6 separate regions of the Homo sapiens genome follow, and all the other regions are reported to be linked to region 1. Evidence: microRNA targets listed by miRTarBase, many of them from high-throughput screens and not tested one by one. Region 1 holds a microRNA gene; each other region holds the end of a gene's coding sequence.
What was found. The annotated mature microRNA hsa-miR-1302 reads UUGGGACAUACUUAUGCUAAA and lies in region 1 at 3,164-3,184, shown strand. An mRNA with a match to its seed (bases 2 to 7 or 8) in the 3' UTR can be bound and repressed. Matches are read on the target gene's strand: a 7mer-m8 pairs with bases 2 to 8, a 7mer-A1 pairs with bases 2 to 7 and ends in A, and an 8mer does both.

Region 1 (5,073 bases):
TGCAGGCCTGTAATCCCCGCTACTCGGGAGGCTGAGGAAGGAGAATCACTTGAACCGGGAAGGTGGAGGTTGCAGTGTGCCAAGATCGCGCCATGGCACTCCAGCCTAGGCAACGAGGGTGAACCAGGTCCAGGAAGAAGGTGCAAAGACAGCATTCCAGGTAAAAGAAACAGCTTGAACAAAAAGTGTGTAGGGGAACCGCAAGCGGTCTTGAGTGCTGAGGGTACAATCATCCTTGGGGAAGTACTAGAAGAAAGAATGATAAACAGAGGCCAGTTTGTTAAAAACACTCAAAATTAAAGCTAGGAGTTTGGACTTGTGGCAGGAATGAAATCCTTAGACCTGTGCTGTCCAATATGGTAGCCACCAGGCACATGCAGCCACTGAGCACTTGAAATGTGGATAGTCTGAATTGAGATGTGCCATAAGTGTAAAATATGCACCAAATTTCAAAGGCTAGAAAAAAAGAATGTAAAATATCTTATTATTTTATATTGATTACATGCTAAAATAACCATATTTGGGATATACTGGATTTTAAAAATATATCACTAATTTCATCTGTTTCTTTTTACTTTTAGAAATCACATATGTGACTTAAATATTTCTTTTCTTTTTCTTTCCTCTCACTCAGCGTCCTGTGATTCCAAAGAAATGAGTCTCTGCTGTTTTTGGGCAGCAGATATCCTAGAATGGACTCTGACCTAAGCATCAAAATTAATCATCATAACGTTATCATTTTATGGCCCCTTCTTCCTATATCTGGTAGCTTTTAAATGATGACCATGTAGATAATCTTTATTGTCCCTCTTTCAGCAGACGGTATTTTCTTATGCTACAGTATGACTGCTAATAATACCTACACATGTTAGAACCATTCTGACTCCTCAAGAATCTCATTTAACTCTTATTATCAGTGAATTTATCATCATCCCCTATTTTACATAAGGAAATGGGGTTAGAAAGACCAAATAACATTTTTTCAACATCAAAACACTAGCTTGAGATCAAGCCCAGACTTGGATCTGTCGTCTGAATTCCAAGCTTTTTGTTATTTATTGATATGTTTTGTTGTTTTCATGCAATAATGCAAATATTAGCCCAAACATTTTGTTAGTAGTACCAACTGTAAGTCACCTTATCTTCATACTTTGTCTTTATGTAAACCTAAATTAGATCTGTTTTTGATACTGAGGGAAAAACAAGGGAATCTAACACTAACCAGCCCGTAGTGTGTGGTCAACACTTTCGTTACTTTAGTATACATCACCCCAATTGTTTGTCTTCACCACACACTTTGGAGTTAGGTAGTAGTATCTATTTTTACAAATAAGAAAACCCAGGCACAAAGGGGTTGATTAGCAATTATCTTTTGAAAAGCCTGTAGTTGCTCATCTGAAGAAGTGACGGACCACCTCTTATTTAGTGGACAGACAGTAACTAGTTGAGAAGACAGGGGATTTTGTTGGCGGAAAAAAAATTTTATCAAAAGTCGTCTTCTATCAGGGAGTTTTATGAGAAACCCTAGCTCCTCAGTTCCACAGTGGGTAACTGTAATTCATTCTAGGTCTGCGATATTTCCTGCCTATCCATTTTGTTAACTCTTCAATGCATTCCACAAATACCTAAGTATTCTTTAATAATGGTGGGTTTTTTTTTTTTTTTGCATCTATGAAGTTTTTTCAAATTCTTTTTAAGTGACAAAACTTGTACATGTGTATCGCTCAATATTTCTAGTCGACAGCACTGCTTTCGAGAATGTAAACCGTGCACTCCCAGGAAAATGCAGACACAGCACGCCTCTTTGGGACCGCGGTTTATACTTTCGAAGTGCTCGGAGCCCTTCCTCCAGACCGTTCTCCCACACCCCGCTCCAGGGTCTCTCCCGGAGTTACAAGCCTCGCTGTAGGCCCCGGGAACCCAAAGCGGTGTCAGAGAAGTGGGGTCCCCTACGAGGGACCAGGAGCTCCGGGCGGGCAGCAGCTGCGGAAGAGCCGCGCGAGGCTTCCCAGAACCCGGCAGGGGCGGGAAGACGCAGGAGTGGGGAGGCGGAACCGGGACCCCGCAGAGCCCGGGTCCCTGCGCCCCACAAGCCTTGGCTTCCCTGCTAGGGCCGGGCAAGGCCGGGTGCAGGGCGCGGCTCCAGGGAGGAAGCTCCGGGGCGAGCCCAAGACGCCTCCCCGAGCGCGGCTCCAGGACCCCGTCGACCCGGAGCGCTGTCCTGTCGGGCCGAGTCGCGGGCCTGGGCACGGAACTCACGCTCACTCCGAGCTCCCGACGTGCACACGGCTCCCATCCGTTGTCTTCCGAGCGTCAGGCCGCCCCTACCCGTGCTTTCTGCTCTGCAGACCCTCTTCCTAGACCTCCGTCCTTTGTCCCATCGCTGCCTTCCCCTCAAGCTCAGGGCCAAGCTGTCCGCCAACCTCGGCTCCTCCGGGCAGCCCTCGCCCGGGGTGCGCCCCGGGGCAGGACCCCCAGCCCACGCCCAGGGCCCGCCCCTGCCCTCCAGCCCTACGCCTTGACCCGCTTTCCTGCGTCTCTCAGCCTACCTGACCTTGTCTTTACCTCTGTGGGCAGCTCCCTTGTGATCTGCTTAGTTCCCACCCCCCTTTAAGAATTCAATAGAGAAGCCAGACGCAAAACTACAGATATCGTATGAGTCCAGTTTTGTGAAGTGCCTAGAATAGTCAAAATTCACAGAGACAGAAGCAGTGGTCGCCAGGAATGGGGAAGCAAGGCGGAGTTGGGCAGCTCGTGTTCAATGGGTAGAGTTTCAGGCTGGGGTGATGGAAGGGTGCTGGAAATGAGTGGTAGTGATGGCGGCACAACGGTGTGAATCTACTTAATCCCACTGAACTGTATGCTGAAAAATGGTTTAGACGGTGAATTTTAGGTTATGTATGTTTTACCACAATTTTTAAAAAGCTAGTGAAAAGCTGGTAAAAAGAAAGAAAAGAGGCTTTTTTAAAAAGTTAAATATATAAAAAGAGCATCATCAGTCCAAAGTCCAGCAGTTGTCCCTCCTGGAATCCGTTGGCTTGCCTCCGGCATTTTTGGCCCTTGCCTTTTAGGGTTGCCAGATTAAAAGACAGGATGCCCAGCTAGTTTGAATTTTAGATAAACAACGAATAATTTCGTAGCATAAATATGTCCCAAGCTTAGTTTGGGACATACTTATGCTAAAAAACATTATTGGTTGTTTATCTGAGATTCAGAATTAAGCATTTTATATTTTATTTGCTGCCTCTGGCCACCCTACTCTCTTCCTAACACTCTCTCCCTCTCCCAGTTTTGTCCGCCTTCCCTGCCTCCTCTTCTGGGGGAGTTAGATCGAGTTGTAACAAGAACATGCCACTGTCTCGCTGGCTGCAGCGTGTGGTCCCCTTACCAGAGGTAAAGAAGAGATGGATCTCCACTCATGTTGTAGACAGAATGTTTATGTCCTCTCCAAATGCTTATGTTGAAACCCTAACCCCTAATGTGATGGTATGTGGAGATGGGCCTTTGGTAGGTAATTACGGTTAGATGAGGTCATGGGGTGGGGCCCTCATTATAGATCTGGTAAGAAAAGAGAGCATTGTCTCTGTGTCTCCCTCTCTCTCTCTCTCTCTCTCTCTCTCTCATTTCTCTCTATCTCATTTCTCTCTCTCTCTCTATCTCATTTTTCTCTCTCTCTCTTTCTCTCCTCTGTCTTTTCCCACCAAGTGAGGATGCGAAGAGAAGGTGGCTGTCTGCAAACCAGGAAGAGAGCCCTCACCAGGAACCTGTCCAGCTGCCACCTTGAACTTGGACTTCCAAGCCTCCAGAACTGTGAGGGATAAATGTATGATTTTAAAGTCGCCCAGTGTGTGGTATTTTGTTTTGACTAATACAACCTGAAAACATTTTCCCCTCACTCCACCTGAGCAATATCTGAGTGGCTTAAGGTACTCAGGACACAACAAAGGAGAAATGTCCCATGCACAACGTGCACCCATGCCTGGGTAAAGCAGCCTGGCACAGAGGGAAGCACACAGGCTCAGGGATCTGCTATTCATTCTTTGTGTGACCCTGGGCAAGCCATGAATGGAGCTTCAGTCACCCCATTTGTAATGGGATTTAATTGTGCTTGCCCTGCCTCCTTTTGAGGGCTGTAGAGAAAAGATGTCAAAGTATTTTGTAATCTGGCTGGGCGTGGTGGCTCATGCCTGTAATCCTAGCACTTTGGTAGGCTGACGCGAGAGGACTGCTTGAGCCCAAGAGTTTGAGATCAGCCTGGGCAATATTGTGAGATTCCATCTCTACAAAAATAAAATAAAATAGCCAGTCATGGTGTCACACACCTGTAGTCCCAGCTACATGGGAGGCTGAGGCGGGAGGATCACTTGAGCTTGGGAGATCGAGGCTGCAGTGAGCTATGATTGTACCACTGCACTCCAGGCTGGGCGACAGAGAGAGACCCTGTCTCAGAAAAAAAAAAAAAAGTACTTTGTAATCTGTAAGGTTTATTTCAACACACACAAAAAAAGTGTATATGCTCCACGATGCCTGTGAATATACACACACACCACATCATATACCAAGCCTGGCTGTGTCTTCTCACAAATGCACTGCTAGGCACCACCCCCAGTTCTAGAATCACACCAGCCAGTTCACCCTCCAGATGGTTCACCCTCAACTTCATAAAAGTTCCCTACCTAATCTACTGACAGGCTCATCCCCGACCTAATTTTAAAGATTTCCTAGGAGCTGCAATGGGAATCCTGGACCTCAGCCTGGACAAAGAACAGCTGCAGGTCATTCTCATGTGTGGACACAGAAGCTCTGCCTGCCTTTGCTGGCCAGCTGGGCTGAGCGGGCCTGGGAATTAAGGCTGCAGGGTTGGTCCCAGGCAGTCTTGCTGAAGCTTGCCACATCCCCCAGCCTCCTGGATTTGCCAGGATCCAAGAGCATGGACTTTAGGAATTCCTGGTGGAGGAGTGAAGAAAATGTGACAGGGTGTCCTAAGCCCCGATCTACAGGAAGAAAACTGGAAATAAGACTGAGGACTTAGTTTAAGATGTTCCTACTCAGCCTCTAGCTTTTGTGCTACAG
Region 2 (5,073 bases), not on the chromosome of region 1:
TGTAATTATGTTCAAAGGTTTTGAGACTGCTGGAAGTCTGATTTCTAGGCAAAAGGGAATTCCTGTGTATGCATTGATTATTAAAAAAAAATGATTCATATAGTTTGATCTGAATATTCTAAGTGAAAATGATTAAACATCTGCCCTTTTTCAAAGTTACTAATTCATACACAAGGAAACATAGAACTAGGAAATTAATTACAGAAAGATAAAAAAATTTGAGGAATGAGCAATTTATTTCAATAAAGAGAAAGCATTAATTTTGCTACAGTGGGAAAAAATGAACTCAAGAGTTGCTACATTTAACTGTATCCCCATTTATCTCTGCACGATGTCTTTATCTCAGTGTCTCAATTCACACTAAAATATTGAATGAGAAATACACCACGTTGGCTGATTGCTTGACATGTCTGATTTAGGGAGACTTCTACAACCACTCCTCTCTTTTTTCTCCCAGTAAATACTTTTGACTTTGACACCTACCATATTGGAAATGACAGGTGCCCGAGGGCAAGTGCATCAAAGCAGTTAGGATTCGAATGCTTGCTAAGGATTATTTTTTTAATGGAGCAGTTCTATTGAATCCTGAAAATGCAGAACCCAGTGAATCTCCTTTATTGTGAAACAGAACAATTCAAATGATTGCAAGCCCCAGAACCTAACAGAGAAGCACTTAAACATTTAGAACAAACATACCTATTTTTCAAACTTTGGCATTTTTGTGAAGTACACTTATCATCTAAATACCTCTCTCCCGTCTTCTCTTTTACAACATACCATTTCAACCTGTTTGTTTAAAGAATGAAGGCCTTAAGGAAAAGCCTTATTCACATCCCCGTAAAAGAAAGAAATAAATATTTGTTTCTAGAATCAATCTAACTGAACTTGACTAAATCTTGATAGAGGCTCCAATCTTACTCACACATAAGGCGATGGATGATCTTTTGTTGTCAACAAATTCTCATTAAGATAGCTAAACAGTTAATTATAATTATTCAAATGTATTTCTTGAGTTCCTACTATGTGCAAAGTATCGTTCCAAAGTAGACACTCTTCCTTAGAAATAAAGTGGGCCACTGAAATCATAACTTCAAAAGTCTAGAACTTTTGATACACCCAAAATATGAGAGGAAAAGTTTGCTGCTGCTGTTACTGTTGCTGCTTCCAAAAGTGCCCAGTTTAATTCTAGGGAATAGCTTAGGCATTGGAAGAATATAATTTAAACTTAAGCATTAATAAAAGATGGAGTTAGGGAATGGTTGTACCTTTATGCCATAACACAACTAATAATGTGAAGTACATTCTAAAATGATTTAAAATGATTGTGAAACAAAACAATTCATCTAAAATGAATTGTTTGATCTAAAATGCTAGCATCTGGCCAGGCGAGGTGGCTCATGCCTGTAATCCCAGCACTTTGGGAAGCCAAGGTGGGCGGATCACATAAGGCCAGGAGTTCAAGACCAGCCTGGCCAACATGGCGAAACCCTGTCTCTACTAAAAATACAAAAAATTAGCCGGGTGTGCTGGTGCACATCTGTAATCCCAGCTACTCAGGAGGCTGAGGCAGAAGAATTGCTTGAACCCAGGAGTCGGAGGTTGCAGTGAGCCGAGATCAAACCACTGCAACTCCAGCCTAGGTGACAGAGTGAGACTCTGTCTCAAAAAAAAAAAAAAAATGCTAGCATCTGGGTGAAACAGTCTAGGAGATGACACCAGCTTGAAAAGAAACCAATATAAATTTCAAAATAAACCAGCATACAGACCAATTGCAATTTATAGAAAAAATAAAAATGTAGAAACATCACCTCCTCTCCCCGACCCCAGTACTGAAATTATACTTCCTCAGACATACTGCCCCATCACTGGGAAGGGTGCGGACAGATTGGGTACATTTATAGAATATTAAATAATTAAGTAACAGAGGCACCGTTTTTGCATGTATGGTCCCAAAGACTTTTCAACTTATTTTTCAACATTACAGTTGTTAAGAATGGAAATTGAAGGAATTGTACATATTTTCACTGACAGTTTCTTACAGACCCCAAAGTGAAAATGCAACACATCACCACCATAAGACAAGCGATTTTGTCTGTCACCCAGAAGACATAACTTGATAGGACATCAGGCTTGCAAGTTCTAAGTGCTTCCTTCACATACCTCTAAACTTTTTATCTTTCCTGAACTAAATAGATTCCTTTTCCAGGTCAAGTGATACCTTCTGGCAAAATACCTTCAGGATAAATATGCTTCCTCAGTTATATATCCCACAATGCAAGCTTCCATTACAAGCTTAAACTCAGCTCCTGGTCTTGCCATTCAAGACTCTCCACACTTACTTCAAAGGATCACTTAAAACACTAGAGAAAAAGAATCTCCCTGAAGGAGAGAGACAATCAAGGAAAGCAATGCTATTTCCAGCTCATGCCCTGCCTTAGAAACTCAAACTTAATCTCATCTCTTGCAAAGAGCCTCAGCAGTCTCCCATTTAGAAACTTGCTCTTATTATTTTCTAAATGTGGTGATTAAATAAAATTAAATGCAAACACTAAACAATAATTAAAAATTAAATTACAAACTTAAAATAAATAAAAAATACATGGACTGGCACTTTTCAGAGAAGGTAATAATAGACAAAGGTCAGTTTCAGGAACTTCATATTCCTTTCTGTACCAGTTTCTACAACAGGCGGGAAACACTGCCCCCTAATGGGCTTTTAGTGTTACATCCCTTGTTCATACGGTGAGACACTGCCCCAGGGTGCACGTACGCGTGCTCTCTCTCTCTCTCTCTCATTTTGGCTTCTGGGACACAGTCTGTCCTTGGTCATCTGTGAACGACTCTGAAGACCATGGAGTCCCTAGAGAAGCCGTGAGACTTCGTGAAAGCTCATCAAGGGGATTAGAAGTTAGCATTTGTTGCAGTGATTTTCAAACCTTAGTGTGCCGCAGAACCACCCAGAGAAATTGTTTAAACTCAGGTTGCTGGGCCCCACAGCCAGAGTTTCTGATTCCATAAATCAGGAGGGTTGTGTCCAAGAATTTGCCTTTCTAACAAGTTCCTGGGTGATGTTAATTTGCCATTCCAGGGACTACACTATATGAGCCAGCACCATCATGCTAGGCACTTTGGCTCATTTAATATCTCACAACAGGGTGAGATTTTATCATCTTTGTTTTACACAGTCTCAGAGAGATTAGGTGGCTACACTCACACAGTAGTGACAAAGCCTGTCTCAAGCCCAGGACTGTCTAACTCAAAACCCATCACTCTCTTCTGAACACAATGATGTCGGGAAATGAAGTTGGCAGTCGCTCCATCTATCTGGCCCTCAGCTTCATGTGAGGGAGCAGGACTTAGATGACGGCTTCACGGGCTTCCCCTCTGAGTACTTGGAGGACTGGATTGGGAGCCACTCAGGAAAGGCCTACTTCATACCCAGGCCGCATCTGGGAGTAAGTAAGCTGAGGGGAAAGGGAAGAGGAGGAGATATCAGCACCAGGGTCCTCTCTGGGTTCTGAACCATCCTACAACGTTCAGAGAAGGGCTGATTTGCTCTGGATTCTGGAGTTCTTTGTATCAGAAATTCTGGAATAGAGGCAAACGCCTTCCTCACGCACATTTTGAGGACTTCAAAGACTAGTAGGACTTGGAGAGGACCCAGAGGATGGCACTCTCTCCAGTCTCAGGCCAAGCCACCAGGGCAGGGTCAGGGACCCCGAAATAACTTTAAAACAGGAGTGCCTGCCCAGCTGTGTTTAGACAGAAAGTTTTTGATAAAGGAAAAAGAGTTTTTGGGTCACATTTTTCCACTAGGAAGACTGAAAAGTCCGTAGCACTCAAGCCCAGGCAGATGTCACAGTGATGGGAAAAGAAGGGCTTTGGGGACCTGCCCACTTCAAAAACAGTTTTTCTCATCCTTTGCCTTCGGCTCCTAACCCAGCTTGGTGTTTTCCTAAGGGAGCTACAAATTCTGGAGCATCCCATGAGGATGATTTGCTGGCCTCGGTCATTAGGGGGAAAGGATGTTCTCAGAAAAACAGCCCTGCACGCTGGTCAGCAGAGATCTTGAGGTCGTGGCCACGACTGGACTTGGTGCAGAGCTGAACCCGAGACTCCAGCTGCTCGCTGAGTTCGTCCAGAGCCCCGGTGCAGGACTCCAGGCTCTCGGCCAGTTTCTGAATCTTGGCCTTCAGCACGGCCTGGCTAACCTTGGTGTCCCCCTCCGCCCGCCTGGGGATGAGGAAGCCACGTGAGCCAAAGAAGACGATGAAGTAGACAGAATTGTACAGGGCGATGGAGGCGTTCCTCCCGCACTGCAGCAGCTGGCGGTCCCCGCAGCCCTGCCAGCGGCAGAAAAACTCGAGGCAGCTCAGGATCTCTCGCATCTGGTCCTGGCAGGTGGCCGCGATCTCCTGCACCCTCCGCAGCTCCCGGGAGTTGCAGAAGATCAGCGAGAGATCGGACGTGATGGTGACGGCCCCTCCGGCTGTGGCCACCCCCAGCCCCACGGCCGACACCAGCAGCGAGGTCCCCAGGGTGACCGGGCTGAGCGAGAGCCCCACGATGGCGGCGAGGGCGCCCGTTGCGCTCAGCGAGCTGCCGGCCACGTTGGCTACGAGGGAGCGCCTGCGCAGGCGCTCCAGGCGCCGGGCCACCTCGCGCAGGCGCAGCACCTGGCCGTGCAGCCGGCCTCGGCGGTCCAGCAGCAGTCCCTGGAAGCGCCGCAGCGCGTCGGGCCCATGCGGCTCCCGGGCCGCCGGCCTCTCCATTCCCTGCGGGGACATAGACACGCGGTCAGCCTGGAGTCTCCGTGCCAGCCGCCGCTCCCGCCCTGCTGCCCGGACGCCAGCGGGAACTTGGCACGAGTTCAGCGGAGCAGCCACTGCCACGCTAGGGGAACGGGTCTGTTTCCAGTGGATCATGAGACGAGTTCTCAAAGACCTGTTCTGGAATCCGGGGGGAGCCACACAAGTTCTCAGGACCTTATCTCTGCATATGGAAATAGGAATAATGCTATCTTCTGCTTCTCTCCCAGGGAACGTTAACGATGGGCTTCATCAGCTATGTGTT
Region 3 (5,073 bases), not on the chromosome of region 1:
CAGGGGAAGGATGAGTAGGTTGCCCAAGGACACACCGTCAGCAAGTGGAGAAGTGCAGGAACTGGGCTTCCACTTACAGAGGCTGTGCTACTGAATGCTAGTCTGTGCTGCCCCTCAGTACAAATTACTATGCTTACCAGACCAAAAATAATCAAAGAGCCAACTGTCATCCAGTTTTGAGGATAAATGAAAGGTAAGGCACAGATGATGTAGAGCTGTATTTACTGATGTGACAATGTCCATCTTATATTGTTAAGTGAAAAACATTGATTAGCACATTTTTATTTATGAAGATGGTATACCCACTGCCTCCCCACTCCCTGCCTCCCAAACACACAACCACATTACAAAGCCTAGAATCACTTTCATCAGAATGTCAACCACGGTGATTCTCCTCACTTGGAGAGGACCACCAAGCTCTGGGTTTCTTAGTGGCAGGAGGTATGAAGTGCAACAGCTTGGAGCTTTGGAGGGGATGCTCTGACACGTTCCAGACCATTGAACCCCTGAAAGCTTACCTATATGGCATATCTCTGTATCTTTGTAACGTTTTTCTCCCACCATCTGCAGTGTTTATGACTTACTAAGTCATTCAGAATAGTCAACATTTCTCGCTTATCAGGCTCATGAACATACTGTCATCAATACAGTTGACCAATGTAATGTATTGCAGAGTGTCCAGAAAGCCTATATTGTAACACAGAGCAGGATTCACCTTGCCCTGGAGCAAGACTGTAAAGATATACTCTTGTCCAATCCTTGAGAATGTGAATTTCCTCTCAACCTACATCCTGCCGGATCCTTTAAAAGTGGCATTTCCGTATTAATAGTTGCATATCACTTGCTAAGGCTGTGCTAACCCGTTATAATAAAGATACCACGTTTGACACAGCAACTGTAATAGGGGCTACTCCTTGGTTAAGTTTTAGGAGCCATTTAGCAGCATGAACCACCAGGAGATACCAGAGGGCAGACTGCTGAATTAAAATGGAGGTGTAACTGGGGTAACAACCCCTGCCTCCTCCATGTCTTTGTAGGTGGCACTAATCTCTATCATTCCCCAAGAATGTGATATTGCTTTTAACTTACTTGTTTTCACCATGAAACTTCAGTTTCAGAGGCTTCTGCTTGGCCTTCCCTAAAACAGTCATTGTTATTTCATAGGTTAGGAAACCAGAGGTTAAGGAACCAGGTCAGCCAATTGCTATATTTTATGATGTATGTATGAATGTATATCCTGATTATACATTCAGGAAATGGGGAAATGATTGCTGGGTGGCCTGTGGATCCAGAGGGCCCATTGTGAGATGGACATTACCTCACCTCCACGTACTCTACTCTAACAGGGGCTACGAAAGGGCTTTGAGTCCTCAGGGATTAGCATCAACTGTGATATTGTACTCAACATCCCTTGAAAGATCTGTGTATTTTCCTTTCCCCGGCATGTGAGTAACTCAAAAAATTTGGCCATAGAGCCCTCCCGTGAAAACTTGAGGGAATCAGTGATGCGCACACTTACAAGGTTCTTCCTTATGAGAAACTGCCCTCATTTCCATCAGTGAGTTCTGGATTCCACTGAGAACTGGCTGAGGTTTGGAAGCTGGGCAAGGGGTCTAAGACTTTACCTTTAGATAGCTGACCTCAGCCTTCTGCTCATCTATTTTCAATCTCTTTTGATTATATGTCTAAAGCAATATGTGTCTTGCCTAGAGGAACAGCATGTCCTAAGAGCCATCTTCATGGACACCTACAGGTCAGGCCTCCCAGTTGTCACTCTAACGTTGATGCCCCTTACGGAAATTACTTTATCTTGTCCTCACAGTTAAATGCTGCCACTTGGCCCCTGTTATTCTGGAACTCTATCATTTTACTCACTACTGGGGGATCCAGTTCTATAAAACATCCCTAGCATTATTCCAGCCTGCAGGGGACAGCCACCATTGAGCTTCTTAAGGATGTGCTGCCCCCTCAACAGTGCATTCCTTCTCACCTTAGTTAGTGTCTGAGACACATTAGTAGTGTCCCCTTTGGAGGAACTCAGTCACCTGATGGATGGATTCTCCAGTTGTAGAGTGCAGAGTCATTCTAGCACACCAACTTCTCTATCCTTGGGACCCACTTTTCCAGACTCTGCCACAGTAGTTCTGGTATCTCTGCTTCCACTTGATTTAATGTGTACCATGGCTTATACTTAGTCTCTAGGAGCCACCCAGGAGTATATCAGAATCATCACCTTTGGCCCAAGCCAGGCTAGTTAAACTCTGTGGTAGAGAAGCTTGCCCCTTTGCCAATAATCGTCACTTATCTGGTTTCACATTTCACCCTTCCTGGACCAGGATCCACTCCCAGACACAATCTCCTTGCTCCTGCTGATGCACGCTGGCCAGTCCTACAGCTCCTTCGGAGGATAAATGCTCTCTTCATTTGCTGCCCTCCCCATGATTGTTCACTTTCATTGTCCTGAGCGGTCTCTATACAGTCTTCATTCTAGAAAAATCGGGAGTTGGGTGGGGGTGGTAGCTCTCTCTTCCAACAAGGGGCAGAAAGACTTTTCTGCAAACCCAGTAGGTTCAGGGGGCATCTGGAGTTCAAAGTTCTCATGTACATCTACCTAGATAGCCCCATGCTGAGTTTGAAGGCCTTGACTTTGGCATAAGAGACCATCCTGAGCTTAGAATTCAGTGTTCTCTGAAGTTCTGCGATTCATAAAATCAGGTCTGTACCAGACCTTCCTTGCTGTCTGCCTTCCAGCTCCAGGTATGAGGGTCTCTTCTCTTTAGGTTGGTAATGAATAGATCTAAGCCTGTCATTTACTCTTTTCAAGACATTAATGGCACTTAGTAATACCCACCAAAACCCATATTTCTTATAGTTACTTTTCCTCACTTCTTAAATGCCAGACAATTGTACCAGCTATTTTAGTACATAGCTGTACTAAAATAGCTTGACCTGCAGCTCATCCAATTTACTACAGGTGAAAATTTGGGCAACTGCTCAGTGATAGCACTTCTGGGACTATCCATATTCCACCCAGCATCACTGGGCTAGACAGTGATCCAACTCCAGAATCCTGTCCTCAGAGCTCGCTTCCTGGGGCCATTACTTTAGGTTGCATTCCCCAGAAGCACATTCTGGGATGAAGTCCATTAAGCAAGAGATTGATGGTGAGGGTTTGCTCAGAAGGGAGTGGGGGAAGCTCATCATGTGGGCAAAAGCTAAGCCACGATGTGGCCACAGCTGGAGACTAGCTCCAGCCTGATACCTGGGAGCACAGAGTAGCCACACACCACACCCTTGGTCCTGCTTTGAGGCAAAGGGGCCGGCCTCAGGCCACGGGGCGTCACTTCCAGGTGAAGCTGATTCCATTTAACGAAGGGTAATACTCTGGGGACTGCTGGCATCAGCAGCCACCACTCAGCAGCTGGGGATGAAAAGACCTGGTCAGAAGAGGAGATGGTGCCAGGATGCCAACCGCTTTGCAGGGGAGGGAAAAATGGCTTCCCTCTACCCTGCTAGGTTCTTTGGCTGAGCTACGAATGAATTAAATTGACATAAGTAGATTGACAGGAGGAAAAAAAATTTAATAATATATGTTTGCACAGGAGTTCCACGAAATATGAGACTCCAAGAAGGGTCAGATGATTGACACTCATACACCATCGTGAGCTATCGAAAAGAACGGCAGTTTGGGAGTTCTGCAGGGAGTTGACCACAGAAGTGGGAGAGTGAAGGGAAGAAGTGTGTCGTGAATAAAGCTTGGCTGGTTTTCAGATAAAAGGTCTTGCGAGTGGCCAGGTGTGGTGGCTCACTCCTGTCACGTCCCAGCACTTTGGGAGGCCAAGGCGGGCGGCTCATGAGGTCAGGAGTTCGAGACCAGCCTGGCCAACATAGTGAAACCCCGTCTCTACTAAAAATGCAAAAAATTAGCTGGGCATGGTGGCAGGCACTGTAATCCCAGCTACTTGGGAGGCTGAGACAGGAGAATCACTTGAATCCGGGAGGCAGAGGTTGCAGTGAGCTGAGATCGCGCCATTGCATTCCAATCCCGGGTGACTGTGTGAGACTCCATCTCAAAAAAAAAACGGAGGAAAAAGGTCTTGTGAGTAATAAATGTTGTCTGGAGCAGACCTCAGGAGAAGAGGTGAGAGTCTGTCTGTGCTGGTATCACCTCCAATCTCCTTCCCTGTGATCTCAGTTCCTCTTCCCTGGTTGATGAGATTCTTGGGGATGGGATTCATGATGATCAAATTTCTTTTGAGGATTTGTTTTTGGGCAGATGAGGGAGGCTCAGAGAAAAGCCTCTCCCTGCATGTGCTATTTCCCAAGTGCTCTCAGTTTGAAGTCAGTGGCAACCAGTAGCATATTTCCTGAAGGCCTTCAGCATCCACTAAACCAGTCAACTGTTCCCATTTGTTTCCTGAATAGCAAACACTTCCTTGAAATCCTTCTCAAATTCAGCCTCCAGTCTAAGTCCCATTTGGCCAAAATCCTTATACTGGAAAAAAGTAATAAAGACAAAAACGATGTTCCTTATCATTAGTGTCATTAGATACCTTTCAACTGAGAATGATCAGGACTCTTGTCTTTAAAAAATAAAAACTGTAAGTTGACAATTTATAATGGTATGTATTTTGGAGTACAAAGCAGTGTTGTGATTTATGACTGCTATGTGGAATAATTAAATCAAACTAATTAACATATTCATCATCTCAAAGAGCCATCATTTTTTGTGGTGAGAACATTTGATATTTACTCTCTTAACAATGTTGAAGTGTGAAATACACTATTATTAAGTAGGACTCTTATCTTAAACACCCTAAGTAACATTAACCAGATTAAACTTGAAAACTCATGCAGCTAAGAGTAACTTCCGTTTCTCACCAGCATGATCCTTTCTTATTAACAGGGCAGAAAAGTGAAATCATTTCCACAGTTGGGATTATTACTTTTTTGCCTTTGGTTGCTTATTTCAGTGGGTTAGAAAAGCAATCTAGGTTCTTTCAACAATTCAGATAGTGGAAGGGTATAAGGTAAGATCACTGATCTGTTCCTTTCTCTGTCACTTCTACTCCT
Region 4 (5,073 bases), not on the chromosome of region 1:
GGGTTCAAACAATACTCCTGCCTCAGCCTGCTAAGTAGCTGGGATTACAGGCATAAGCCATCACACCCAGCCTTGAGGATTTTCTTATACTGTGTTTGAATCCACATGACTGATAATATGCTTAATGTTTGAGAAATTATAACCTTGCAATTGAGGTTAATGATCTACTAACTACCTTTGTGTTGATCAGATTGTGTACAATCTGGAAAAGACAACGACTAATCCAAAGAAATGAAACTACAGAATTTCAGGCATTGTAATTATACCTGTAAGAAGTTAACCTAGCAGAGAAAACGTTTAACTATCCCTCCCATCACCATCACCATTCATTCTATTTGACAAACAGGAGGCATCCAAATATTTGCTAGGGGAAAGTCATCCCTGATCATCCATAAATCACACTGTAACAATCTCTTCTCAACAAAGCCTGCAGTAACTAAACCTCAGAAGTTCACTGTTATAAACTTTTTCTTTCAACTTTACAGGGGCTGTTTAGAAATATATGGCCAAATCTGTAACCCGGAAACAGCAAAAAACTTCTTAGCAAAGGATCACTAAGTACCCTTTGGATGTACTCTTCCAACCAGACAAGAGTGCCAGAAACTTGGCAAGCAATTCATCCTGTGGAAGTTGCAAATACTGGCTGACCTGCTTAAAAAGATTCTAGAGTTGGCCGGAGGCAGAACATGTCAACTCTTTGCTGGATTCTATTTCATCTGCTGTTGATACTGATCTCAATGCACCAAGGAAAGGAAAGATGAGCCTCCTGTCTTCCAGCAACAACCCTCACATATGCACTGAGTGAAGGATGAATGTATGGACACATCTGGGAGTATTTTAAAGAATGTATCTTGCCTTGTGTTGACCCAAACCAAAAACATTTTTGAGGGGCACATGTGGGGTCAAAAAGATAGCCAATTTCCATTACATGGGTTTACAATTTCCATTCTTTTGTGCCACGAGTGTTAGAATTTAAATGAATACTTTTACAAAGTCTACTTTTTGTTCAAGGATATGCTGACCCATATAGTTTACTCTTAAAATTGTGTCAAGGTATTTCTCACTATACTCTAAAACAACTAGACTTGAAAAGAAACCATTTGAGATTTGAATCTAATGGTTAACGCTATTCAGATTTTCCCAAAGATCTTACCTCATGAAAGTAGTTCTGGGTCAGAATGATCTACTCAGTTAAAAAACAACAACAACAAAAAACTAAGCGATTGGGAAAAAACAGGAATTTTATCTGGTTATTGCATCTGGTGATAGAGGCCTTCAAAGCCTATTATTTCTAACCTAAGTAAAGGCCCCAGTGAAAAACATACTGGGGAAATAAAACCTCTGAGAAAAGGTTCAAGCACCTTTTCCAAATTTAAATCTTGCCTTAAATTCTCTCTACCACACTGCCTTTGACACTCTTGGAAGTCCATGTAGTTCTCTACAGATAGACTTCAAAGAAACGTTACCTTATCAAAGACTAATCTGTGCCACCTCTGATTCAGTGTTTTATGTCTTTCACTTTCCCTGGGAAGGAGTAAAGTTCTTTTCTACAGCTCTGGGACTATTACATTTAATTCTGCTCTTGATAGTCAAAGACCATGGACAACAACTGTCATCTGAAGGACTCTTCTAGAAGCCAGAGACTGGTGTTTGATGGATGTTTTATACTAAATAAAACCCATCAGCATGGGGTTATGTAGAAAAGCAATTTATTCCATTTTAAGCACTTACACAGTTAGTCATGGAGAGTAACAGGCCTGCTGGTGAAACAGGTCACCCAAAATGGAGATGGCATCAAACTAGTGGTCAAGGACTAACTCCTAAAAAAAAAAAGCAACTCTTATCAAGGATTAATTTAATTTTTAAAACAAATACAAGTTATTGATTCACTCTTCTCAACTTGACAGTCTACCTGTGGTATAACTGTCAGGTAAAAACATACATCTTTACAACTTGGTGGTCCCAAGTTAAAAAAAAAAAAAAAAAAACCAACAACAAAAAAAAAAACACCATTTCACAGACAGGAAATAAACAACATGAAAACAGCTCAAGAAATACACTAACGAGCAAAAATATATGAATATATGGGGAAAGAGGAACGTGTTGTTTTGACTTAACTGAAGAAACCAAGAGGAAACTGGTCTACGTATGAAAATGTGCATCCTGGAAAGTCAGGTGTCAAGATTTTCGAGTAGGAATCTATATGACTTGAATCTCCCCCTATTTCCTGAATAAAAGTGACATCTTTCAGTATTTATACTTCATGGCTCAGACACCTACCTCATTTGGCTCTATTCCTTACTCACTCTAGCCTTTACTTAAATGAGTCTGAAAAACTTGGGGATATAGCATAAGAAGAAAAATAATCACACATAATATTCCCCTTTCTGTAGCTACTTTAGACCTGGGTTACTAGAAAATTCCTGAAGAAAATTTCAACGTTAAGTCTGTGGCTTTGTTGAATCAAGCCCCCCTATTAATATTTAGAAAACACCCACGGTTTGGGCTAATAGCATTATCGGTGGTACCTATTATATAGAGGGATAGCTGAATAAAGTCTGTCTCAAAACCAGTGTTAAATCACTCTCAGGGTTGAGAAGAAAAAAGGGGAGTCTAAAATCACAACAAGTAAAGACATATCTAGGACCCTTGTCCTTCTGGATCCACGCTTCCTTCAGGGTCTTCATCATTATAAATGTTCTCTGCCTGCCCAAAAACAAGAAAAAGAATTTAAACATGAAGACTTCTTCTAAAACTCAAGGTTTCAACAACAGATTAGGCCAGGAAGCCAGAGAGTAAATACTTTATAGCTTTTGGGCCACACAATCTGTGTTACAACTATTCAACTCTTGGATGAAAGTATCCGGAGACAACCTATAATGGGTAATGAAATATTAATTAGCATGATCATGTTCCAATAAAAATAAGCAGCTGATCCCCAGACGCCTGATTAGGACATTCCCACAAAACTGCAGTGTGGATACTATTTGTCTTGATAGCCAACATTCTTGAGTTCTTTAACCAGGCATTATTATTTTTCTTTCCTTTTGAGATGGAGCCTTGCTCTGTCTCCCAGGCTGGAGTGCAGTGGCACCATCTCGGCTCACTGCAACCTATGCCTCCCAGGTTCAAGCAATTCTCCTGCCTCAGCCTCCAGAGTAGCTAGGATTACAGGCACATGCCACTACGCCTGGCTAATTTTTGTATTTTTAATAGAGATGGGGTTTCACCATGTTGGCCAGGCTGGTCTCGAACTCCTGATCTCAGGTGATCTGCCCACCTCGGCCTCTCAAAGTGCTAGGATTATAGGAGTAAGCCATTGTGCCCAGCCTAACCAGACATTATTAATAATAGCCAAAAAGTAAAAACAACCCAAATATCCATCAACTACTAAAATGGATACACGGTATATCCAATCCATATGATGGAATATTATTTGGCATAAAAAAGCCAGTCAGGCCAGGTGTGGTGGCTCATACCTGTAATCCCAGCACTTGGGAGGCTGAGGCAGACAGATCACTTGAGGTCATGAGTTTGAGACTAGCCTGACCAACAAGGCGAAACTGCATCTCTACTACAAATACAAAAATCAGCCATGTGTGGGGGTGCACCCCTGTGGTCCCAGCTACTTGGGAGGCTGAGGCATAAGAATTGATTGAACCTGGGAGGTGGTGGTTGTAGTGAGCCAAGATTGCACCACTGCACTCCAGCCTGGGTGGCAAAGCAAGACTGTGTGCCAAAAAAAAAAAAAAAAAAAAAAAAAAAAAAAAAAAAAAAAGCTGTCACATACTTTAGGATTTTATTTATATAAGGTGTCCAGGCCAGGTGTGGTGGCACACGCCTGTAATCCCAGCATTTTGGGAGGCCAAGGCAGGCGTATCACCTGAGGTCAGGAGTTCGAGACCAGCCTGGCCAACATGGTGAAACGCTGTCTCTACTAAAAATATAAAAATTAGCCAGGCGTGGTGACAGGCGCCTGTAATCCCAGCTATTTGGGAGGCTAAGGCAGGAGAATCGCTTGAACCCAGGAGGCGGAGGTTGCAGTGAGCCAAGATCACACCACTGCACTCCAGCCTGGGGGGCAAGACTTCGTCTAAAAAAAACAGGGGTCCAAAACAGGCAAATCCATAGCTTGGTGGCTGCCTAGGGCTGGGGGACTATGAGAAAAATAGGAAATGATGGCTAATGGGTACAGGGTTTCTTTTTCAGATGATGAAAATGTTCTCAAATTGACTGTGGTTGATGGTTGCACAACTGTAAATACACTGAAGACTGCTGAACTGCACACTTAAAACTTCCAAAACAATATGTTCCGAATCTCTATATATTGAAGAGAAAAACTGTTCTTGTATAGAATAAACTCTACTTCTACTGCTTGACAGAATACCTGTATCCAACGGCATAATCTTAAAATACAGGAACCACTTTCACAGGAGCAAAATTTACTGCTCTTAGCACCTACCATGCACATATCACTATGATAGGTACTGCAGAGGACAGGATAGTCTTACCTTCAAAGAGCTTGTGATCTGACCCCAGAGAAAAGAATACATACAATTGTGTGATGCTTTCTGACGTTACTTCTAACACCAAATGTGGGGTACCCTTTCTTAGGACACCAACTGGGTGTACAACTCAATCCTATTCTGACACTATCTGAAGTTAGCTTTGGAGAAGACTGTCCTTACTTCAGAAGCCAGTTGCAATTCCCTGGTCCCAGGCTACCTGCACACTTCTATCCCACTTGACTACAAATTTCAGGGTTCCCACTACTGCCTCCTCAGGTCTGATAATTTGATGGAATGACTCACAGAACCCAAGAAAGCTTTTTACTATTACTGTTTTTTGTTTGTTTTTTGTTTTGTTTTTTTTTTTAAATAAAGGATACAACTGAGGAACCACATGGAAGAGATGCATACGGCAAGGTGGGGAGGGGCTGCAGAGTTTCCATCAAGTCTCTGGGCATGCTACCCACCCAGTATGTCGAGTTGTTCACCAATCCAGAAGCACATCAAATTAGGAGTTTTTATAGAGTTCAATCTCTGGCCCTGCAACCCCAAGGTTGGCAAGTGG
Region 5 (5,073 bases), not on the chromosome of region 1:
CACAGAGGTGGCAGCCCCCCCAGCTGTGGTGCTGCATCGTGTTCTCCGGGAGCGGGCCCTCTGGGATGAGGATCTGCTGCGGGCCCAGGTGCTGGAAGCCCTGATGCCGGGTGTGGAGCTGTACCACTATGTCACCGACAGCATGGCACCCCATCCCTGCCGCGACTTTGTGGTGCTTCGGTGAGGGGCTGCAGCTGCTACCCTTCTGTGCTTGGGGGGCCGGAGAAGTGGGGTGGAAACCAGCACTAGGAATCTGAGCCTACGTGTCCCTTCTCCAATAGGATGTGGCGCTCTGACCTGCCTCGTGGGGGTTGCCTGCTTGTCTCCCAGTCCCTGGATCCGGAACAACCTGTGCCAGAGTCGGGTGTGCGAGCCCTCATGCTCACATCCCAGTACCTCATGGAGCCTTGCGGCTTGGGCCGCTCTCGGCTCACACACATCTGCCGGGCTGACCTCAGGTATCAGGCCTGGGACAGCCTGCTCGACCCCCTTGGCCTTGACCCCCTCCCCTGCCTCTGCCCCTACTTTCTGCCCCATGCTATTGATCCCTGGGGCTGGGGACAAGTCCTTTCTTCCTTCTCCCTGGTGAGGGCTCTGGGGAAAAATCCATTGCTCATGCCTGGTTTCTTCTGCTTCCCTAGGGGCCGTTCTCCTGACTGGTACAACAAAGTCTTTGGACACCTGTGTGCCATGGAAGTGGCAAAGATCCGGGACTCCTTCCCCACCCTGCAGGCAGCGGGCCCTGAGACAAAGCTGTGAGCCTTGGGCTGGTCCCAGGGTGGCACCACCCAGGCCCCCTGGGCACCAAGGGAGCGAGGGGGAATAAGAGCAGGGCAGCCCCCTGGGTGCCGCTGTCAGGAGCAGAGCCAGGCCCAGGTGGCTCCAGCTGCCTGTCCTGTCCCCTTTCCTAAAGCTCCTCTGCACATAGAGGGGAGAAAAAGAGAATTTAGGCAACTCCACTCCCCCTTCACCCCCAACCCTGTATTCTACTCTCCCGAAAAGAGAAGAGAATCGCATGAGTAGCAAGACTGCTGCCACCAGCCACCTGCTTGTGAGGCCGCCACTTGGCATGAAGCCTCCACAGCTCCCCGCCTGCAGGGGCAAAGAGGTCGACAGCAATGTGTGATCCCAGCTCTCTGCCAGACTGAGAGGGCAAGCCGTCTTGTTTGCTGCAAGGATGCTTTTGAGGTTGGACAGGAGGTTCTGGTCCTGCCTTTGGGGCCAACGCTGGCTCTGAAGTGTCTTTTTCAGAGGAATTGGACTGGAGTGAATGGGCACAGGGGTGGAGCGCAGGGCAGCCCCAGTCACCACGAGCTGTTTCATTTGTGTAAATACGATGCTGAATTTTATGAGGCTGAGTTAAGAGTGGGCACTGACGGGCCCCTAATATGTGACATGACGATTTGGCATAGATAGGGATGTGAGAGTGGAGTACCTTCCTTTCTCAAGTCTCGAGATGCCAGTGAAACCAGTATTCCCTGACTTGGGTTTCACACTTTATCGACCACCCCATGGGGTCCTGTGTAGCCTTTGGCCACGCACTGACACTGCCCAGGCCAAGCAAAAGCAGAGTGTGGTTAAGAGACAAGGGTCTATGTCATCATCCCTTTTGCTTATGGTAGTGGGCTAACATAACAGCCCCTTTCTCAAGCAGAGACCTGGCCCCTGGGCCAGCCAGATGGAAGGGCCTATCTTAGCCAGCTGGAGCTTAAGCCAAACCTGTTCTGTCCCACTGGCCAGCCATCTTTGCTCACATGGAAATTCAAATGCCATTCAAAGGCCACTGGTGCTTTATTTTTCTATCTGCTGAGTAAACTGAAATGAGATGGGTCCCAACCACCACTGTAATTTTCAAGCCTATTTTATTTGTACCTGTAAATACTGTACAGCTAATATATATATATATATATATATATGTGTGTGTGTGTGTGTGTGTATATGTGTTTATAGAGATACACACACATATATATGTGTGTATATATATACACATACATATATATACACACACGCATTTGCACAGACACACACATATATCAATTCTCATGAGTGTATTATAATCTCTGGTGGGGGCAAGTGTCTGGAAGGCCTGAGGGGCACTTCAGATGAGAATGGAGAGGTAGGGAGCCAGGTGCAGCAGGATCCCTCAAATCAATAAAGCATTACCAGAGATGCACTTTAACTGTGTGGCTGTCTTTGCTGACAATGGGCTAGGGACTGGGGACTGGGGTTGTGACTGAGGCTTCAGTGTTAGGGCTCAGAGCATTAAGCATTCACCCCACCCTCTGCTGAGTCCTAGCTTACCGGCAGCAGGACTTGGGTGAGTCCACAAGAGGAATGGGGAGGGCCTCAGCTCTTCTCTTTGGAGAGGGATTTGCAGCCAGACATGGTGGTGGGGGGGTGGGGCAGAGAAGGGGTGGAAAGTTAGCCGGAACTTGGGCAGAAGCTGCAAACCCCATCTCATGACCTGGCCACAAGCATGACCTCAGGCATCCTAGGGAGAGGTGAGCCTGGCTAAGCGGCCATTCCTTCCCCTTCTAAACAGCTTGAATGAAGAGTGAAGTCCCAGCCCCAGGAGGCTTAGGGGGCCCTGTGCCACCTGTAAGCCAACCTAAGAGGTCGGAGTGCCTTAAGGCAGCCTCTGGTCTGGCTCCAGTGACCAGCAAAGCCCAGGGGGCTAGAGAGACCCTCTCATCTTGACTTCCCCGAAGGAAGGGGCTTTCCTCTATCATGTTATATGGCCATAAAATTCCCAGGCTCCGAAGAGCAGCTAGAGAGAAAGTCCAGGCTTTGGACGTTTGCATCCCTGAAGTGCTGTCAGTAGCCTGGGCAGGGAAGCCCTGCTCTCTGGGTACCTCAACCTCCTCATGGGTCAAACGAGGCCAGTCATACCTCTCCACAAGCCTGTCTCAGTAAGTGTTCAGGTTGCACCACCCAAGTCTGCACTCCGACCCGGCCTGAACAGTGAGGTGCCTGTCCAGTCCCGCTGCTCTATCACCTCCTTCCATTCTCTCTTGGGTTCAGTTGTCCCTACATGCCTTGGCCTTTCTTCACTGCTGTCACCTAGGGGTCTTGGCTAGCCCTGGAAGTGAGTGAGGTAGAGCAGAGGACCCAGTCAGCCCCTTGCCTTTGGGAAAACTAAATGGAGGTGCCTTGTGTGTGAGTATGGGCTGGGAGATCACTCTGGTGGTGCTGGGCTTAAGGGACACCAGTGTGATTTTCTGGCCAGTAGTTCTTAAGGAAGGCATTGGGGCTTTCTGGCCCAAGCACTGCCCACCTTCTTTTGGAAGGAGGTTGGTGGTAGGGTACAGAGGATGGGACTCAGCACTCAGATGATGGTTGCTAGGAGATGGATAAAGAGGAGGGAGGCTCTTGGAAGGGCCAGAGAGTTCCCCCAACCTTGCAGCTCTGGACTCTGCTACCCTGACCCAGTAGCCCAGTGTCTGGCATTATGGAAGAGGTAGCTCCAAGTAGGAGAGCTTCTGTTGGGCCTTAACATCATCCTGTGTGAAGCAGAGCTCCCATCCCTCATCTCTGCCTACTCTACTGTGCCTCTAGATGTAGGAATGAGTTTCATGATGAGGTTGCCCAGGCCTCTCATTCCCACCCACAAAGCAAGCACCACCCCTGGCCATTTCTAGCCCTGAGTCTTGTACCTCTGCTCACCCCAAGTAGGCTTCATTTCCCTGGTGCCAGAGAACATGCCTTCAAATTCCCAGCCCTGCTGCCCATAGTCTACTCTTGTGCTTTCCCTCACCCACTGCCTCAAAGAAGCCAGGCTGCAGGGGAATCCTGCATAGAAATCTAACAATCTGCCTGTGAGCTTTGATTATTGTTTCCTAGTCTCCAGTGCCCTGTTGCCAGAGTGGCTGAGGGTAGATGGTGGTCAGACCCAGGCTCAAATCTAGCTATATCATTTCCTGGCTGTGTGACCTTAAGTGGCACATTTAACATTTCTGATTTCCCTCTCAGAAAATAAGGGTAAGAATCATTTATATCTTGTAAGGTTGTTGTCAAGGTTAAATGAGCCAATAGTTGTGAACGTGGTTGCAGGTTGCACAGTGCCTTGCACATAGCAGACATCAAAATATGGCAGCCCCCCGCCTGCCCCATGTCTTTCCTGCCAGTGAGACTCCATAGGGAGAACTTGGTCCTCTCATCTGGGATCTCCAGCTCCAAGATAGTGAGGAGTGGGTGGGTTCTTCTCCCATCAGGACAAAGATGAGCAGCCAGCATCTGCCCATTGTCAGTGAAGACAATGAAGAAGCATGTTGCAATGGAGACTTCATGGGGGGATGGCACCATGCAAGTGGGCCCCAGTGGTGTGGATGGAGCAGAACATACTGGTATAGGCAAAGATGATGGCAATGACAGCCAGGAGCTTTACATCTATTCGTAACAAAGCTTCCGAGTTCCTTGCTCAAGGCCTGGGGGGGTGGGGGGCAGTGATGAAAAAAAGCCCAGGGCAGTCTGGCATGGAGATAACACAGGGGATAGGGCTGGGGCTATGGAGATCCAGGGAACTTCAATAGCTTATGGCCCTCACCCAGTGATGGAGAGGAGTCAGCAATCAGGGCCATCAACAGGGCAGGCAAACAGTAGAACTCAGAGACGGGCACGGGGACTCCATTGCATGAAGCTGCAGTCAATAGGGAAAAATGTCTGAGAAAGTGGCTTGGGGCTGGCAACCAATGCAATGCTTTCTGGGGAGAAAATCACTCGTGAGCCAGTTGGTAGCAGGGTCTGAATATTAGCTACCCACCAGGTGCCAAGGAGGGAATCAGAGCAACACTTTCCACTTCATCAAGGGCCAGATAAACTGGTCAGGAAGCTGGCAGCTTGGCCCCTGCCCATTATGTCCCCATCTTCACTCAAGAAACTGGTAGAGTGGAATAGCCCCGGGCAGCTGAACTTGCACGTGCATCAAGCTGGAGAGGAAAGCAGATGCCATTGTTGCCATGGCAGTTGCCCAAGGGGCCACAGCACCAATGGAACAGAATAGAGAATGCAGAAACAAATCCACACACCTACAGTGAACTCATTTTTGACAAAGGTGCCAAGCACATACACTGGGGA
Region 6 (5,073 bases), not on the chromosome of region 1:
GATTACAGGCATCCACCACCATGCCCCCCTAATTTTTGTATTTTTAGTAGAGACGGGGTTTCACCATGTTGATCAGGCTGGTCTCAAACTCCTGACCTCAGGTGATCCACCCGCCTCAGCCTCCCAAAGTGCTGGGATTACAGGTGTGAACCACCGTACCCGGCTATCAATTATTTTTTTGAAACAGATTTTGTCTCTGTTGTCCGGGCTGGAGTGCAGTGGCGCAGTCTCAGCGCACTACAACCTCCACCTCTCAGGTTCAAGTGATTTTCCTGCCTCAGCCTCCTGAGTAGCTGGGACCACAGGCATGTGTCACCACGCCCGGCTAATTTTTGTATTTGTGGTAGAGACAGGGTTTCGCTATGTTGGCCAGGCCGGTCTTGAAATTCCCTGGATGACCTATTAAACAGTCATCCCACCCTCCCTTTCGCTGCCTTCTAAAGGTGCTCAAATTTCTTGATGGCATTTGTCACTTACCAGTCATTGTACTTTTGCTAATTATTGTCTGTTCCTCCTTCCAAGATGGAATGCAAGCTCAGCAAGGCAAGGGCAGGGACTTAGTTTCACTCTGTGCTGTAAATCAGTGCCCGACGCGTGGTAAGTGCTCAAATATTTGCTGAATGAATGAATGAAGGATGGTGGTTCTTCCCTCAGGCTCAGAAGCGGAATCAGAAAGCCACACCAAACAGTCCTCGGACCCCTCTTCCACCAGGTGCTCCCTCCCCAGAATCAAAGAAGAACCAGAAAAAGCAGTATCAGTTGCCCAGTTTCCCAGAACCCAAATCATCCACTCAAGCCCCAGAATCCCAGGAGAGCCAAGAGGAGCTCCATTATGCCACGCTCAACTTCCCAGGCGTCAGACCCAGGCCTGAGGCCCGGATGCCCAAGGGCACCCAGGCGGATTATGCAGAAGTCAAGTTCCAATGAGGGTCTCTTAGGCTTTAGGACTGGGACTTCGGCTAGGGAGGAAGGTAGAGTAAGAGGTTGAAGATAACAGAGTGCAAAGTTTCCTTCTCTCCCTCTCTCTCTCTCTTTCTCTCTCTCTCTCTCTTTCTCTCTCTTTTAAAAAAACATCTGGCCAGGGCACAGTGGCTCACGCCTGTAATCCCAGCACTTTGGGAGGTTGAGGTGGGCAGATCGCCTGAGGTCGGGAGTTCGAGACCAGCCTGGCCAACTTGGTGAAACCCCGTCTCTACTAAAAATACAAAAATTAGCTGGGCATGGTGGCAGGCGCCTGTAATCCTACCTACTTGGGAAGCTGAGGCAGGAGAATCACTTGAACCTGGGAGACGGAGGTTGCAGTGAGCCAAGATCACACCATTGCACGCCAGCCTGGGCAACAAAGCGAGACTCCATCTCAAAAAAAAAATCCTCCAAATGGGTTGGGTGTCTGTAATCCCAGCACTTTGGGAGGCTAAGGTGGGTGGATTGCTTGAGCCCAGGAGTTCGAGACCAGCCTGGGCAACATGGTGAAACCCCATCTCTACAAAAAATACAAAACATAGCTGGGCTTGGTGGTGTGTGCCTGTAGTCCCAGCTGTCAGACATTTAAACCAGAGCAACTCCATCTGGAATAGGAGCTGAATAAAATGAGGCTGAGACCTACTGGGCTGCATTCTCAGACAGTGGAGGCATTCTAAGTCACAGGATGAGACAGGAGGTCCGTACAAGATACAGGTCATAAAGACTTTGCTGATAAAACAGATTGCAGTAAAGAAGCCAACCAAATCCCACCAAAACCAAGTTGGCCACGAGAGTGACCTCTGGTCGTCCTCACTGCTACACTCCTGACAGCACCATGACAGTTTACAAATGCCATGGCAACATCAGGAAGTTACCCGATATGTCCCAAAAGGGGGAGGAATGAATAATCCACCCCTTGTTTAGCAAATAAGCAAGAAATAACCATAAAAGTGGGCAACCAGCAGCTCTAGGCGCTGCTCTTGTCTATGGAGTAGCCATTCTTTTGTTCCTTTACTTTCTTAATAAACTTGCTTTCACCTTACCGCCTCGTCTTGAATTATTTCTTGTGTGAGATCCAAGAACCCTCTCTTGGGGGGTCTAGATCAGGACCCCTTTCTTGTAACACAGCTACTTGGGAGGCAGACGCAGGAGGATCACTTGAACCCAGGAAGCAGAGGCTGTGGTGAGCCAAGATCACACCACTGCACTCCAGCCTGAGCAACAGAGTGAGACCCTGTCTCGAAAAAATAAAAATCCTCCATGGATAGGCCATCTCATCCCAGACCTGGGCATTCGGAACAGCCTGACAAATCTGTCCTGAATGGCCTTCTCTGAATATGGTGTTCTGAGAAGGCAGGCAAAGATTTGCCTTTGACACACCCCAGCTCCAGTCCAGAGGACTGCGCAGTTTCATGGGTTCTCAGAGATGGGAGGGTCTTTAAAGATGACTAGATACAGCCAGGCGCAGTGGCTCACGCCTGTAATCCCAGCACTTTGGGAGGCTGAGGCTGATGGATCGCTTGAGGCCAGGAGTTTGAGACCAGCCTGGCCAACATGGTAAAACCCCGTCTCTACTAAAAATACAAAAATTAGCTGGGCGTGGTGGTGCGCAACTGTAGTCCCAGCTACTCGGGAGGCTGAGGCAGATTTGCTTGAACCCAGGAGGCCGAGGTTGCAGTGAGCTGAGATGGCGCCACTGCACTCCAGCCTGTGCAACAGAGCGAGACTCTGTTTAAAAAAAAAAAAAAGACTAGATAGGCTCCTCAGTCACCTCCAGCCTGCTGCCTATTTTCATACCACCTGCAAGCTAGAAATGTTTTTACATTTAAATGCTTGGGGAAAAAGTCCGAAGAAGAAGACTCTTCTGGGGCCCCTGGGAAGGAGATGAAATTCAAATTTCAGTGTGGTGCCCAACCATGCTCATTCCTTTACACATTGCAGTTATTTTCATGCAGAGTTGAGTCACTAGCCTGCAAAGCCTAAAATATTTACCATCTGATCCTTTACAGAAGTTGGCTAGATCTTAATCTACATAAACTCATTTGTTTTCACAGAAGAGGAAGCGAGCGCAGAGGTCCATAAAGAGTTCAAGAGTAGCCGTGGGAAAAATGACTAGGTCTGTGACTACAGGAAGGTTTTCAGGGTGAGGATTGGAAGGGCAGGAGACTGCATGTGGATGGGGTGCTAATGCGCTCTCAGACCCACAAATCTAAAGAAGTGCAAACGCATGCGGGGATGGAGGTTGGAATGCTTTGGAAATGGAACAATGACAAACTTACAACATGCTAAGAATCACACAGTGGCTCACGCCTGTAATCCCAACACTTTGGGAGGCTGAGGTGGGCGGATCACCTGATGTCAGGAGTTCAAGACCAGCCTGGCCAACATGGTGAAACCCCGTCTCACCTAAAAAAATACAAAAATTAGCCAGGTGTGGTGGCGGGCACCTGTAATCCCAGCTCCTCGGGAGGCTGAGGCAGGAGAATTGCTTGAACCTGGGAGATGGAGGTTGCAGAAGCCGAGATCATGCCACTGCATTCCAGCCTGGGCAATAGAGTGGGACTCCGTCTCAAAAGAAAAGAAATAGAGCAAAGGAGAGCACTTTGCTGGCCATCTCCTCTGCTGACCTCTGCTCCTCCATAGCCACCCAAGGGGCCTTTCTTCGGTAGTTATTGCATCGTTGGTGACATGGCAAGGTGGCCCTCTCTGGTGTGTTTTGTTTCCTGGCTGTGCTAAACACTCCAGATACTGAAAAATAAAAAATTAAAAACTGAGCTGGACACGGTGGCTCACGCCTGTAATCCAGCACTTTGTGAGGCCGAGGCAGGCGGATCACTTGAGCTCAGGAGTTCGAGACCAGTCTGAGCAACAGAGCGAGAGCCTGTCTCTACTAAAAATACAAAAATTAGCCAGGTGTGGTGGCAGGTGCCTGTATTCCTCAGCTATTCAGGATCCTGAGGCATGAGAATCGCTTGAACCTGGGAGGCAGAGGCTGCAGTGAGCTGAGATCGCGTCACTGCACTCTAGCCTGGGTGACACAGCGAGACTATGTCTCAAAAACAAAGAAAAAACCTGAATTAGCTGCAAGGACCAAAGTTGGCCACCAGACGTCGGTATACCCAGGATGATAGGACTATAGACTCATGGTGTGGAATGGGATCACCCAATGCAGCCACCTCATTTTACAGAAGGACTTCAGAGAGGGACAAGGTCTTGCATGTCACACAGCTGAACTCCAGAGCTGGGATTCAAACTCAGGCCCAGGATGGGTGAGCACTGCTGGTTACACAGTCTCCTTTAAGCTTAGAGTGGGAAGGATGCTGCAAGGGCTTGAGAAAAAGGGAACTCCCTACAAGCTGCACAAAGACTGAGACTCTGCTTCCTTCCTTCTACCACCAAATTCTGCCATGAGAGCAACCCTTGAAGATCTGTTTGACCTGGGAAATTACAAGATTGCATTGCTAAGGCACCAGGTTTGACTAGGTGTCAGTAACTTTGAAATGTGTGTGTTAAGGTCCTGACTTCTGCAATAGTGACTTGGGACTTGGAGGGAGGGCATTGTTATCCAGTACTCTTGGGGAAAGGCAATGTTGTGCAAATGAAAACAAACAAACAAACAAACAAAAACACCAGGCTTGGAGTCAGAAAACCCAAGGGGAACTTTCCGTATTGCCAAATATTCTTTTTCTTTTTTTTTTTTTTTTTTTGAGACAGTCTCGCTGTCGCCCAGGCTGGAGTGCAGTGGTGCAATCTTGGCTCACTGCAAGCTCCGCCTCCCGGGTTCATGCCATTCTCCTGCCTCAGCCTCCCGAGTAGCTGGGATTACAGGTGCCTGCCACCGCGCCCAGCTAATTTTTTGTATTTTTAGTAGAGACGGGGTCTCACTGTGTTAGCCAGGATGGTCTTGATCTCCTGACCTTGTTATCCGCCCGCCTCGGCCTCCCAAAGTGCTGGGATTACAGGCATGAGCCACTGCGCCTGGCCCCCAAATATTCTTTTTAACCAGTCAACTGGGACATTAACTGCAGGAAGTATGAATATAAAATAGTTATATGTTTTCTGATCACTGAGTCAATCATGTTTTTTTGTTTGTTTGCTTGTTTGGTTTTC

Region 2: the mRNA of APOLD1 is a reported target of hsa-miR-1302. Seed matches in the 3' UTR shown: 7mer-m8 at 2,806-2,812.
Region 3: miRTarBase lists SP140L as a target of hsa-miR-1302. The part of its 3' UTR that is shown has no 7-base or 8-base seed match.
Region 4: miRTarBase lists SYNC as a target of hsa-miR-1302. Seed matches in the 3' UTR shown: 7mer-A1 at 1,960-1,966.
Region 5: the mRNA of STARD8 is a reported target of hsa-miR-1302. Seed matches in the 3' UTR shown: 7mer-m8 at 1,726-1,732 and 7mer-A1 at 1,830-1,836.
Region 6: the mRNA of SIGLEC10 is a reported target of hsa-miR-1302. Seed matches in the 3' UTR shown: 8mer at 1,845-1,852.

Annotation. Positions count from the first base shown.
Region 1 is chr9:27,053-32,125 of GRCh38, forward strand. MIR1302-9 (microRNA 1302-9) reads left to right here and starts at 3,092; the gene lies at 3,092-3,229. It overlaps WASHC1 (WASH complex subunit 1), which reads right to left and starts at 2,404. Exons shown (of 11, transcript NM_001378090.1): 1 at 2,260-2,404. MIR1302-9HG (MIR1302-9 host gene) reads left to right here and starts at 2,607. Exons shown (of 3, transcript NR_197460.1): 1 at 2,607-2,830; 2 at 3,290-3,393; 3 at 3,706-3,839.
Region 2 is chr12:12,786,611-12,791,683 of GRCh38, reverse strand. APOLD1 (apolipoprotein L domain containing 1) reads right to left here. Exons shown (of 2, transcript NM_030817.3): 2 at 218-4,775. The coding sequence ends at 4,032. Among named protein-coding and RNA genes, the nearest start is that of APOLD1, 3.5 kb to the right of the region's middle. RefSeq lists silencers at 4,499-4,608, 4,639-4,738.
Region 3 is chr2:230,402,220-230,407,292 of GRCh38, reverse strand. SP140L (SP140 nuclear body protein like) reads right to left here. Exons shown (of 19, transcript NM_138402.6): 19 at 3,561-4,495. The coding sequence ends at 4,397. Among named protein-coding and RNA genes, the nearest start is that of SP100, 11 kb to the left of the region's middle.
Region 4 is chr1:32,677,273-32,682,345 of GRCh38, reverse strand. It overlaps SYNC (syncoilin, intermediate filament protein), which reads left to right. Exons shown (of 5, transcript NM_030786.3): 5 at 486-2,440. The coding sequence ends at 496. It overlaps RBBP4 (RB binding protein 4, chromatin remodeling factor), which reads right to left. Exons shown (of 12, transcript NM_005610.3): 12 at 1-2,706. The coding sequence ends at 2,641. Among named protein-coding and RNA genes, the nearest start is that of SYNC, 23 kb to the left of the region's middle.
Region 5 is chrX:68,723,664-68,728,736 of GRCh38, forward strand. STARD8 (StAR related lipid transfer domain containing 8) reads left to right here. Exons shown (of 15, transcript NM_001142503.3): 13 at 1-180; 14 at 282-458; 15 at 642-2,173. The coding sequence ends at 759. Among named protein-coding and RNA genes, the nearest start is that of STARD8, 79 kb to the left of the region's middle.
Region 6 is chr19:51,406,953-51,412,025 of GRCh38, reverse strand. It overlaps SIGLEC10 (sialic acid binding Ig like lectin 10), which reads left to right. Exons shown (of 11, transcript NM_033130.5): 11 at 655-2,006. The coding sequence ends at 927. Among named protein-coding and RNA genes, the nearest start is that of SIGLEC10-AS1, 6.2 kb to the left of the region's middle. RefSeq lists enhancers at 2,576-3,076, 4,094-4,143.